2 separate regions of the Homo sapiens genome follow, and region 2 is linked to region 1. The links come from fine-mapping of genetic effects on gene expression. Tissue or cell type: whole blood. Region 1 holds a variant in brackets; the other region holds the start of a gene. All regions are shown on one strand. Distances are between the middles of the regions.

Region 1 (5,000 bases):
ACAGTTCTGACCTCCTAACCTTTCTGTAAAGGTCTTGGGAGCCCGCAGTCCATGGTCTGTGCCTTGAATACCCACTGGTGAGATGCAGCTTCATCTCATCCGCATGGATCTGGGCTGCGCTCACGCCCCTGCTCCTTTGGGGCTTTTCTGAATGTGAGGCCTTCCCTGACCTCCATATTTAAAATCAGCCCCCCTTCTGCCCCTCACTCCAGCCCTCTAATTTTTCCCCATGTCTCTGTCTCTAACATGCTCTGTCCATTTTGTCTGCCTCCCTCCACTAAAATGTAAGCTCTGGATGGCAGAGATTTTGAGCTGTCTTGTTCCTTGCTGTATCCCCAGCAATTAAGAGTAGTATCTGGCATGTGGAGGTAGTAGCCTGATACGTATTTCAATGAATGAGTGAGCGAATGTGCCTGGGCCACTTTCCGGGGGTCTCCTGGCAGGCCCAAGGGGAGCAGCTCATTGCCCTTGAACTGGCCCCCCTGGGGGTCCGTGCTCCCCACCCCTGATGACTTGTCTTGTTCTCCCTGGCTCCTCAGCCAGTGCTGCCCCACACCGCCGTGTGCCTTGTGTGTGGCGAGGCGGGGAAGGAAGACACGGTGGAAGAGGAGGAAGGCAAGTTTAACCTCATGCTCATGGAGTGCTCCATCTGCAATGAAATCATCCACCCTGGATGCCTTAAGGTGAGTGGCCCAGTGGGGACAGGTGGTGCTGACGCTCTGGGGCAGGTAGGGTTGCTGGAGATGCTGGTGAGATGGTGGGATGCAGGTCGTGCAGTGAATTCCTGGAGGACCCCTGAGTCTGGGTGATCCTGTGTGTCAAGGGATAAGCCCGGGGCAAGGAGGGCCTGGAGTACCTCAGAGACCCAGTGTCATCAAAGGAATAAACACACCCCCACCTCCCAGGATGTCAGAACCAGAGAGGGTTTCCAGAGCCTCAGCAGATGGCAAACACAGGCTGCTTGTTTGTAGCTGGGCCAGAGGAAGCGCCTCCAGGTGGCTCCAGGCTTCTGGGAGAACAAGGCCCCACACCACACTCCTTCCCCCAGCACCCAGTAGAGTCCTCTGCAGAGTCCTTTCTGCATGCCAGGCGCTGAGCTCATGGCTTTACCTGGGTCATACCCCCCCAGTGAGATGGGCACACTAACTTTTATGGCCGAGGGCACCAGCCCACAGAGACGGAGTGTCTTGCCCAGGGTCCCAGAGAAGCAAAGGGGCTCAGCCTCTGAACCCTGGCCTGGATCCACAGCTGCCCGTCTCTGCCAGCCTCTGCAGCTGTGTTTTCTTTTGCCTGGAAACGGGATAGATGTGACGTTGGGGAGGGGGTGCTGCTGCTTCTGGAAGACGTGGCGTCACAGAGCCTTGTGCCCGTGGGCCATCTTCTCCGCCCGTCCCTCTTCTGAGTCCTGGTGTTCCCCGCAGATTAAGGAGTCAGAGGGTGTGGTCAACGACGAGCTTCCAAACTGCTGGGAGTGTCCGAAGTGTAACCACGCCGGCAAGACCGGGAAAGTGAGTGCCGGGCTCCAAGTCCCAGGGTCAGTCGGGAGAGGGGCGGGCCTGGGCCTGGCCGGGACCAGCCTGTCCCAGGAGTTTCAGGCAGGTGGGTTGCCGTCGGCCTGGGGAGGAGGAAGGGCAAGTCCAAAGGTATACAGTTGGTCTGTTCATTCTCTCTTTTTGGCCTACAAGCAAAAGCGTGGCCCTGGCTTTAAGTACGCCTCCAACCTGCCCGGCTCCCTGCTCAAGGAGCAGAAGATGAACCGGGACAACAAGGAAGGGCAGGAACCTGCCAAGCGGAGGAGTGAGTGTGAGGAGGCGCCCCGGCGCAGGTCGGATGAGCACTCGAAGAAGGTGCCGCCGGACGGCCTTCTGCGCAGAAAGTCTGACGACGTGCACCTGAGGAAGAAGCGGAAATACGAGAAGCCCCAGGAGCTGAGTGGACGCAAGCGGGTACGGACCAGGAGGGGCTGGGAGGCAAAGGGGTTGGTCTGGCTGGTCCCGGGTGCTGGGTTGGAGGGATGGGGCAGGGGGTGGGCAGCAGGTAGAGCTTGGGATAATCCCGGCCTCTTGCTGCCCTGAGCAGGTCACCTAAGTCCTGAGAGCCCTGCCCCAAAGAAAGGAGGGGAAAACCAGCGAGTCACTCCTCTTCCCACTCCACCCCCCTTTAGGCCTCATCGCTTCAAACGTCCCCCGGTTCCTCCTCTCACCTCTCGCCGAGGCCCCCTCTAGGCAGCAGCCTCAGCCCCTGGTGGAGATCCAGTCTCACTTACTTCCAGCAGCAGGTGCTCCCACGACGCACGCCCTCCTGAGGCCCCGGGGACTGGCGAGTCCTGGGCTGTCCCCCACCCCACCCCGCTGGTCCTCCACCCCACTGCTGCCTCTCCTGAGGCTTCCCAGGTCTCGGCCCCAGATCTCTGGCTCGTGGTTCTGGCTTGGGGCCTGGGAAGCTGTCTGTGCCTAGAGCCTCTGTTGGTTGGGATGGAAGCTGTGAGTCCAGGGAACCTCTGAGGAGCCTGGTGGCCCTGCTCCACCCACGGGCCGTGCTGTCACCAGCCACAAGGTGGCGCCAGGAGTCTCTCCCAGCTCTAGCCATTCCTGCTGGGCCGGGGATTCCCACAGGGCTGTGCTCCAGAACTGGCTCCCAGAGCCGAGGATGATTTGAATGGGCGGCTGCACATCTCCAGGTCTGTGGGGTGGGAGGTCAGTTGGGTGGGAACAGTTCAACTGTACTCCTACTTCCAGCTTCTTCCTTGAAAGCTGCAGGCAGGGCTCGCCCGTCTGTCGGTCAGACGTGGAGATGGCATTTGTGGGGAAGGCCTCCCTCCAGCCCCTCCTCTGGAGACTGTGGACTCGTGGTGGGGTGG[G/A]GTGTCGAGGAGACCAAATCCCACGAGCCCGGGGAGCAAGCTCTGCGTCCTTTCTTTTTCGTGACAGCTCAAACCTGGCAAAGAAGATAAGCTTTTCAGGAAAAAGGTACCATCTTCCCCTCCCTCCTGTGCCCCAGGCCTGAGCGGTTAGAGCTGCACCGCAGCTCCCTGGGCCACAGTCCCGTGGCAGGGGGGCGGGAGGCCTTGGGCGGGCGCAGCCCTGAGCCCCAGAGGCTGACGCGTCTCCGCTCTCGCCCTCAGCGGCGGTCCTGGAAGAACGCCGAGGACCGCATGGCGCTGGCCAACAAGCCCCTCCGGCGCTTCAAGCAGGAACCCGAGGACGAACTGCCCGAGGCGCCCCCCAAGACCAGGGAGAGCGACCACTCCCGCTCCAGCTCCCCCACCGCGGGACCCAGCACCGAAGGGGCCGAGGGCCCGGAGGAGAAGAAGAAGGTGAAGATGCGCCGGAAGCGGCGGCTTCCCAACAAGGAGCTGAGCAGGGAGCTGAGCAAGGAGCTCAACCACGAGATCCAGAGGACGGAGAACAGCCTGGCCAACGAGAACCAGCAGCCCATCAAGTCGGAGCCTGAGAGCGAGGGCGAGGAGCCCAAGCGGCCCCCGGGCATCTGCGAGCGTCCCCACCGCTTCAGCAAGGGGCTCAACGGCACCCCCCGGGAGCTGCGGCACCAGCTGGGGCCCAGCCTGCGCAGCCCGCCCCGTGTCATCTCCCGGCCCCCACCCTCCGTGTCCCCGCCCAAGTGTATCCAGATGGAGCGCCATGTGATCCGGCCACCCCCCATCAGCCCCCCGCCTGACTCGCTACCCCTGGACGATGGGGCAGCCCACGTCATGCACAGGGAGGTGTGGATGGCCGTCTTCAGCTACCTCAGCCACCAAGACCTGTGTGTGTGCATGCGGGTCTGCAGGACCTGGAACCGCTGGTGAGCGGCGGCCTGTGTAGGGCTCTAGGTTAAGGCTCAGGCGGCACCAGGGATGGCCCGTGGTGTGTGGAGTCGCTGGCGATGCTCTTTCCTTCCAAACCCCAGTATGGCTTCATTGTGCTCCGCAAAGCGTTCCAGCTGGCTACAGCGGCCCCTCTGGTCTTGTCAGAGGAGGTGACCCCGTTTATTCCGATTTAGCTTCCTGGAGGGTGAAGTGAGGACCACGTGGAGTCCTTGGCTTCGGAGAGTTAGTCCAGGTTTCCAGCAAGGCTGCGAGTTGCAACTTCAGTCCAGCCGATATTTACCAGCTTTCTGGCCTTAGCTCTGCCTTACCCTCTTGGATGAACGGGCATGACGCCAGCTTCATGGGGGTTGTTTGGAGGAACGGCCGGTAGAGGGCGTTGTAAAGCCCATGGTAAATACTTGATGGAGGCCGGGCGCAGTGGCTCATGCCTGTAATCCTAGCGCTTTGCGGGCGGATCACTTGAAGTCAGGAGTTCAAGACCAGCCTGGCCAACAAGGTGAAACCTCATTTCTACTAAAAATAAAAAAATTAGCCGGGTGTGGTGGCGCACACCTGTAATCCCAGCTACTCGGGAGGCTGAGGCAGGAGAATAGCTTGAACCTGGGAGACGGAGGTTGTGGTGAGCAGAGATTGCACCACTACACACCAGCCTGGGAACAGAGCGAGACTCCGTCTTAATACATACATACATACTTGATGGAGAGTGGAGGCCATGGCTGTTAGAGCAGGTGGGAGGTGCCCGCGTGGGGGCAGGATAGGTGCTACATAGAGAAGGGTCCAGAGCGCTGAGTTAAGGAGCCTCCCAGAGGTTGTTAGGTGGGGACAGTTAAGAGCTGTGTGTGGGCTCCCTAGAGGAGCCCCACCTCTGACGATGTGTCCCCACGGGGCCGGTCCCCAGGTGCTGCGATAAGCGGTTGTGGACCCGCATTGACCTGAACCACTGCAAGTCTATCACACCCCTGATGCTGAGTGGCATCATCCGGCGACAGCCCGTCTCCCTCGACCTCAGCTGGACCAATATCTCCAAGAAGCAGCTGAGCTGGCTCATCAACCGGCTGCCTGGTGAGCCCTGGGCCAGTGGCCCCGAGTGTGTCTGCTGCAGTGAGGGCTGGGGACACATCCCCTGACCTTCACCCTTTTCTATGTCCCCCCAGGGCTCCGGGACTTGGTGCTG
Region 2 (5,482 bases), 140 kb before region 1:
TTGGAGACCAGCCTGGGCAACACGGCAAAACCCTGTCTCTACCAAAAATACAAAAATTAGCTGGGCATGGTGGTGCACTCCTGTAGTCTCAGCTACTTGGAAGGCTAAGGTGGAGCATTGCTGAGTCCAGGAGGTGGAGGTTGCAGTGAGCTGAGATTGTGTCACTGCACTCCAGCCTGGGCAACAGAGCAAGACCCTCTCTCAAAAAAAAGAAAAGAAAAATCAGGAGTTATGATAATCATATATGAATATGAGAACAACTTCAATTTCTTATCAAGATTCTGGTTTCTGAGAGCTACATCCAGTGTCCACCCTTTCCTTGGGAAGCTGCAGGTCCATCGTCCTACCCAGCCTCGAGTATGCCCCAATCTGCATGCCCCACGCTGCATCTTCTTTTCTCTAGCCTCTCTGTCTTTGGGCACAGAGTTGCTCAATCAACCTTTGATGAATGAAGAATGAATGGGGGTAACTCAGGCAGGATTTGACTGGGCCCTTTGTAAGATCGAGCAGGAGGGTCCAGGAAATAATTATTATTATGTTTCCAATACAACCGGCCCGGTGTTTTCCTGCAAGAAAAAGTACATCTCTGGGGTAAGCACCTTCACCTTCTCTCTTCCCTTACCTACTCTCCACTTCTCTGGGACAATTAGTCAACACTGGGAGCTCCAGGGTCTTGGCCCTTCCCCCTTTGGTCCAAAATAACCTCCTCCCCCACTTTGAGCAAATGCTTGGAATTCTTTCAACTGGAGGACAAAGCCTTTCATCTGCCAATTACTGATAAAGAGAAAATGCAAATATCGAGGGGGAAGGTGATTCATCAAGGGCCCAACATTTATTGAGTGGCCACTTAGGACCCGGCAGCAGGGCAGGCATTCTGGGGGAGGCCAAGGGGAACAAACCCCCGGCTGGCCCATTCTTTTCTCGTGTTTGCGGTTTCCTCGAGGTTTGTAAAGGGGGGGGATTAAATGAGGTGACTACCCAGCCCCTTCCCACTCTGACAGGCCAGGAACTCCTCGTGGAGGTGATAGATGGACTTAACTGTTTTTATACTAAGGTGGCTGCCATTGGACCTTTTTCTGATGCCAGCTTTTGGGGCCACTATGAGGCCACTTGGAGAGAAAGAAGGGCCTCAGGGAGAAAAAAGAATTAATTAGATGAAGCATTCTATTATATATTTTTTGCTTTATTTCACTTAATTCACTTTGCGTCACTCTCCAGCCCATGCAGCCTCCTTTGAACATGTTTATTTCATTATGGGGCAGTAGTGAGGCTGGTAAGTTACTAAAAAAAAAAAAAAAAAAAAAAAAAGCACGTGATGGCCAAGCCAGGCTCCAGTGTGAGCCCTGGCAGCGGCACATACGCGCTATGTGATCCTGGGTGAGTGGCTTTGCTTTTCTTAGTCCTAATTTCCTCCTTTGCAAAATGGGAACGAACAAGACGATTTCCCTTAAAGGGTTCTTGTGAGAAAGACAGGAACAAATAAAATGGTCCATGGTTCTGGACGGACTGAAGGCAGAACCGGCAGCACTCACACGAAGGGCTACTGATTGCACGCAGCAGCCAACGTGGGCGATTTCAGTTTGGAAACAAATTTTGATGTTTCCCAGCCTCATCCCTGCTTAAAAGATTTTTACAGCTAGTGAACATGAATGAAAACAAACTTCAAAGAGTAGCCTTTGAGGATGGGTGGGAAAGACTACAGTCAGATAGGACAGGAAACTTCTAAGGTGAGTGAGGGGGAAGCTGTCTCTTAGGACGGCCAATACGATGCTGATAGTGACATCGTATCTCCTGGTGGGGAAGCCACGTCCTCCCCACAGGTCTGTCTGATAGCCTGGGGACCATATGGGAGCACAGCAATCATTCAGATTCATAATTTCTCTGAGCTTCAGTTTCCCTATCTGCAAAATGACCTGCTCCAAGTATCCCACAGGGTTATGGCAGAAATAAAATGTCAGGCTCAAAGCCTGCTATCTACAATGTCCCTTTATCGTCTCCCTCTTGCCATGTCATTTTATCAGCATCTTTACCCGCAAGATCAGGCCTAGCAGGGCGCCACAGCTGGGGCTGGAGGAATGTTTAGGGCTAGCTTTTCTCAAGCCAAGTCGACCTGACTGTTGCTCATGATGGGAGGACAAGACAACCCAGGACCAGTGCTGGGGTAGTCAAAAACACTAGTAAGTGGACAGGGACCTAATGACACCCATGTATGTACGGAGGGTGCCGATACCTCCGCTAAGAAGCCCTGTAGGGGCTTCATCAAGGGCACTAGAGTTCCCCCCACCTATCCCAGAGCACCATGCACCTTTCCACCGACTTGTCTTCTATAAACTACCAACAAGGGCTTACCCTTCGCTCCTGTGCGGGCTGCGTTAGGAGGCGCCAGATCCAATTCTCTGCGTCTTTCGCTCCTGAGCATCTATCTGCTCCCCTTGCCGAGCGCAAGAACCTTTAAAAAATGTCCAACTTCTGTTTCAGGGCTGGTCGCCTAGTAAAGGAGTCCACAGAGGCGGGCAGAATGAATGAATGAAAGGCAACGTCTTCCGGTCAGCTGCGGACTGCAAAGGCTCTGGTCTGGCTGTATTTCCTGTACGTGTGTGTGTCCACATCTTTGAGTGCCGGGAGTTTAAAAGTTAGGCAGTCCTTATAGGTATGGAAGCCGAGCTAATTTCCTTCTGAGCCCCCCAAATGCCTCCTCCACATGGCGGGTCCGCAAATGGGGGGATCTGCAGAGGATCACCCCCCACGAAAAAGACATGCAGCAGAAAAGCAAAAAAAGAAAACAGTTATATATACAAAATGCTTTGAATTTGAGTCGGCCACACAGGTAATGTTGGGGGAGGGGTGGATGAAAGAAGAGGAAGAGGGGTAGCCCTGGGCAATGAGGGCAGGAACGGAGGTGGGGGGTCGTTTTTGGGGGTGCCAGGCCCCGGGGGCTTTCACGCCAGCATGCTCGGCTTGCATTTCCGCGCCTCCCGCTGAGGCCAGCCGTGCAAATCTGCACCTCCCTCCCCGCCCCCTCCTCCTTCCCTCCCTCCCTGCCCCGCCATCTCCGGGATGCGCCCGCCGCCTGCAACTCGGCCCTCCAAAAGTCAGCTCTGCACACAACTCCCGGGCGGCGGCGGCGCCTGCGTGCAGAGGCGCACTCGTGACCCAACAACAAAACAGCGATGCCACGGCGCTAACGGCGCCCGGTGCCTCCCGGGCTCCCTCCCCGCCCCATACCTCCTCGGGCCGCCGCCCCCACCCCCCCAAGCCCGGGCCGAGAGCCCCCCCAAATAGCCCGGCCGCGGGCTCCGAGCGCGATCGGCAACAATGTTTACGTTCCGGGGATTATGACGTCGACGCCTCCCCCCCCCCACAACTGCTGAAAATGGTTTCCTAGGACTTTGCAAACGGATCTGCCTAAGTGTTGGTGCAAAACTTTGTAGATCTCGGCTCTGGCTTGCTTTATTTATTTATTTTTTGGTTTGTTTTCTTTGGTCTTCCCTCCTTCCCCCCTCGGCCAAAATGCAGGGGGCAGGAGTGTTGACAATTAATTGGTGAACTCTCCTAAAAAAATGGAGGCAGAGAAAGACTCTGGAAGAAGATTGGTGTGTAGCTTTTTTTTTTTTTTTTTTTTTCCAAATCTGTATCTGGCATATGATAGATCTTTTTTTTTTTTTTTTTGGTTGTTTCTCGCTGCCTTTTCTTTCCTTTTCTGTATTTTGCAAGAGGACCGGGAAAAAAATATAATAAATTGCATGCAAAAGGAAGCAAGCTGCTTACTCCTCCAGCCCCTTGTGAGGCTTAGAGTCTCAGACACTTAAGTGGGGAGGTGGTATCGGGGAAAGGCGTGGAGGGGGGCTGAGCGGGCTCGGGGTTCGCCCGGAATCTGGGGGGCTGAGGGGCCGGGCGCTGGGCGGTGGAGGGAGGAGGCAGGGGGATGCGGGGAGTGGTGGGGGAGTCTCCTTAGGAAGTGAGTGTGCGCGCGCGCTTGTGGGGAGATGAGGCAGCTGCTGGTGCGTTTTGGGGTCTCCGATCCGAGCTTTGTGGCGGGCCGTCTGCCTCTCCCCCTTCCAAGCCCCGATTCTCCTCCCCCCACCTCCTCTTCTTGCACTGGCGGGCGGGCGGCGGGGGCGGCTGGGGTCTCAGCCCTTCCATTTCAGCTTTCCAGCTTCCCCGGTAGCTCGGGGGCGGCTCCAGCTTTAGAAATGCCGCCGGCCCCCGGTTCCGGCTTCCCGGCTCTGCCGCCGCGGCCGCTGGGGCTGCTGTTACCGCCGAGCCGGGCGCCGCAGCGGCTCCTCCTGGGGCCTACATTTGCCCCGCCAGCCCGTGTCCGGAGCCCCCTTCGCGGGTTACATAACCAGGCTCCCGGCCGAGTGGGCGAAGCCCAGCACATTTCGGGGGCGGGGGGCAGGGGAGGGTCCCCAGATGTCCCTTCAGTGCTTCCGAAGACACCGGAGGGGAGTACCCCGCGTAGAGCGCAGCTGGACCCTCGGGGTGCGGGCCCCTCTCCTTGTCCTGCTTTTCAGCATCTTTGGCAATTGCGCAAAGTTGCTTGGGTTGCAATGGTGGGGTGCAGGGGGCGCTCGGCTGCTGCACCTGTTAGTGCTGGGCCCAGGTTGAGAGGCGACCTCCAGCCCCCACAATAATGTCCCGGGCTCTCTGGTTTGGGTCCTCGCAGCGCCCGATTGACCGCCAGCGATACGACGAGAACGAGGACTTGTCGGACGTGGAGGAGATCGTCAGCGTCCGCGGCTTCAGCCTGGAGGAGAAGCTTCGCAGCCAGCTGTACCAGGGGGACTTCGTGCACGCCATGGAGGGCAAAGGTGAGGCGCCCCCACCCCGGGCCGCCCTCTGCGCTGCGGGCCGAGCGCACGTGGGGAGGGAGCTGCCGGTGGCTGGGTTCGTATTTCGCGCCCGCGTCCCCCATTCCAGGGGATCCGGTGACGAAACGAGGCCGAGCACTGGGGGGGTGGGGTGGGGTGGTGAGGGAGGAGGGCAGGCAGTAAGGGGGGCCGGGCATGGGCCTAGGCCCGGCCCGCGCCCACCACCAGCCCCAGGGTGGGCAGAGCCAGGGGGCCGGCGGACAGAGGGACCTGGAGATGGACAGGCGGACCGAGGGAGGGCGGGAGCGCCGCGTCCTCCCCCTCCCCGAGCCGGTCGCGCTCCCTGCGCTGCCTGAGGTGCCGCCGCCTGGCTGGAACTGGGTTCAGGGCGCCCCTGGGGCATCGGGGTAAGGCCCCCCAGGCCCGAAGCCTTCCCAATCCCGTTCCCGCTTGGGGCCTGCCAGTGAGGAACTGGTGATGGGGGCGCGTCGGGTGTTTGGGACGATGCCCCCTTAGGCCTGGGGTCCGCAGAGCCGCATTCCCCCATGGGCTCTGCCAGATTGGATCAGGGACCCCATGAGCCCTGAAGCTGTTGACCTGAACCCCTACCTGGGCCGGAGCTGTCTAGCGCTACAGCCTTGATAGGTTGAAGCCAAGAATTGGGGTCAGGG

Evidence for each region. PIP is the estimated chance that this variant, and not a neighbour inherited with it, causes the effect.
Region 2: KDM2B starts here. The variant in region 1 is fine-mapped to the expression of KDM2B in whole blood (TOPMed, PIP 0.98).

What each region holds. Positions count from the first base shown.
Region 1 is chr12:121,440,958-121,445,957 of GRCh38, reverse strand. KDM2B (lysine demethylase 2B) reads left to right here. Exons shown (of 23, transcript NM_032590.5): 14 at 540-683; 15 at 1,422-1,508; 16 at 1,686-1,946; 17 at 2,165-2,278; 18 at 2,928-2,966; 19 at 3,122-3,801; 20 at 4,725-4,888; 21 at 4,981-5,000. It overlaps MIR7107 (microRNA 7107), which reads left to right and starts at 1,606; the gene lies at 1,606-1,685. The variant G/A (reference allele first, on the strand shown) is at 2,861.
Region 2 is chr12:121,578,131-121,583,612 of GRCh38, reverse strand. It overlaps KDM2B (lysine demethylase 2B), which reads left to right and starts at 2,590. Exons shown (of 23, transcript NM_032590.5): 1 at 2,590-2,827; 2 at 4,667-4,811. The coding sequence starts at 2,702. KDM2B-DT (KDM2B divergent transcript) reads right to left here and starts at 3,102. Exons shown (of 4, transcript NR_183427.1): 1 at 2,350-3,102. RefSeq lists enhancers at 1-493, 494-1,429, 2,365-3,300 and silencers at 2,870-2,919, 3,000-3,309, 4,469-4,548.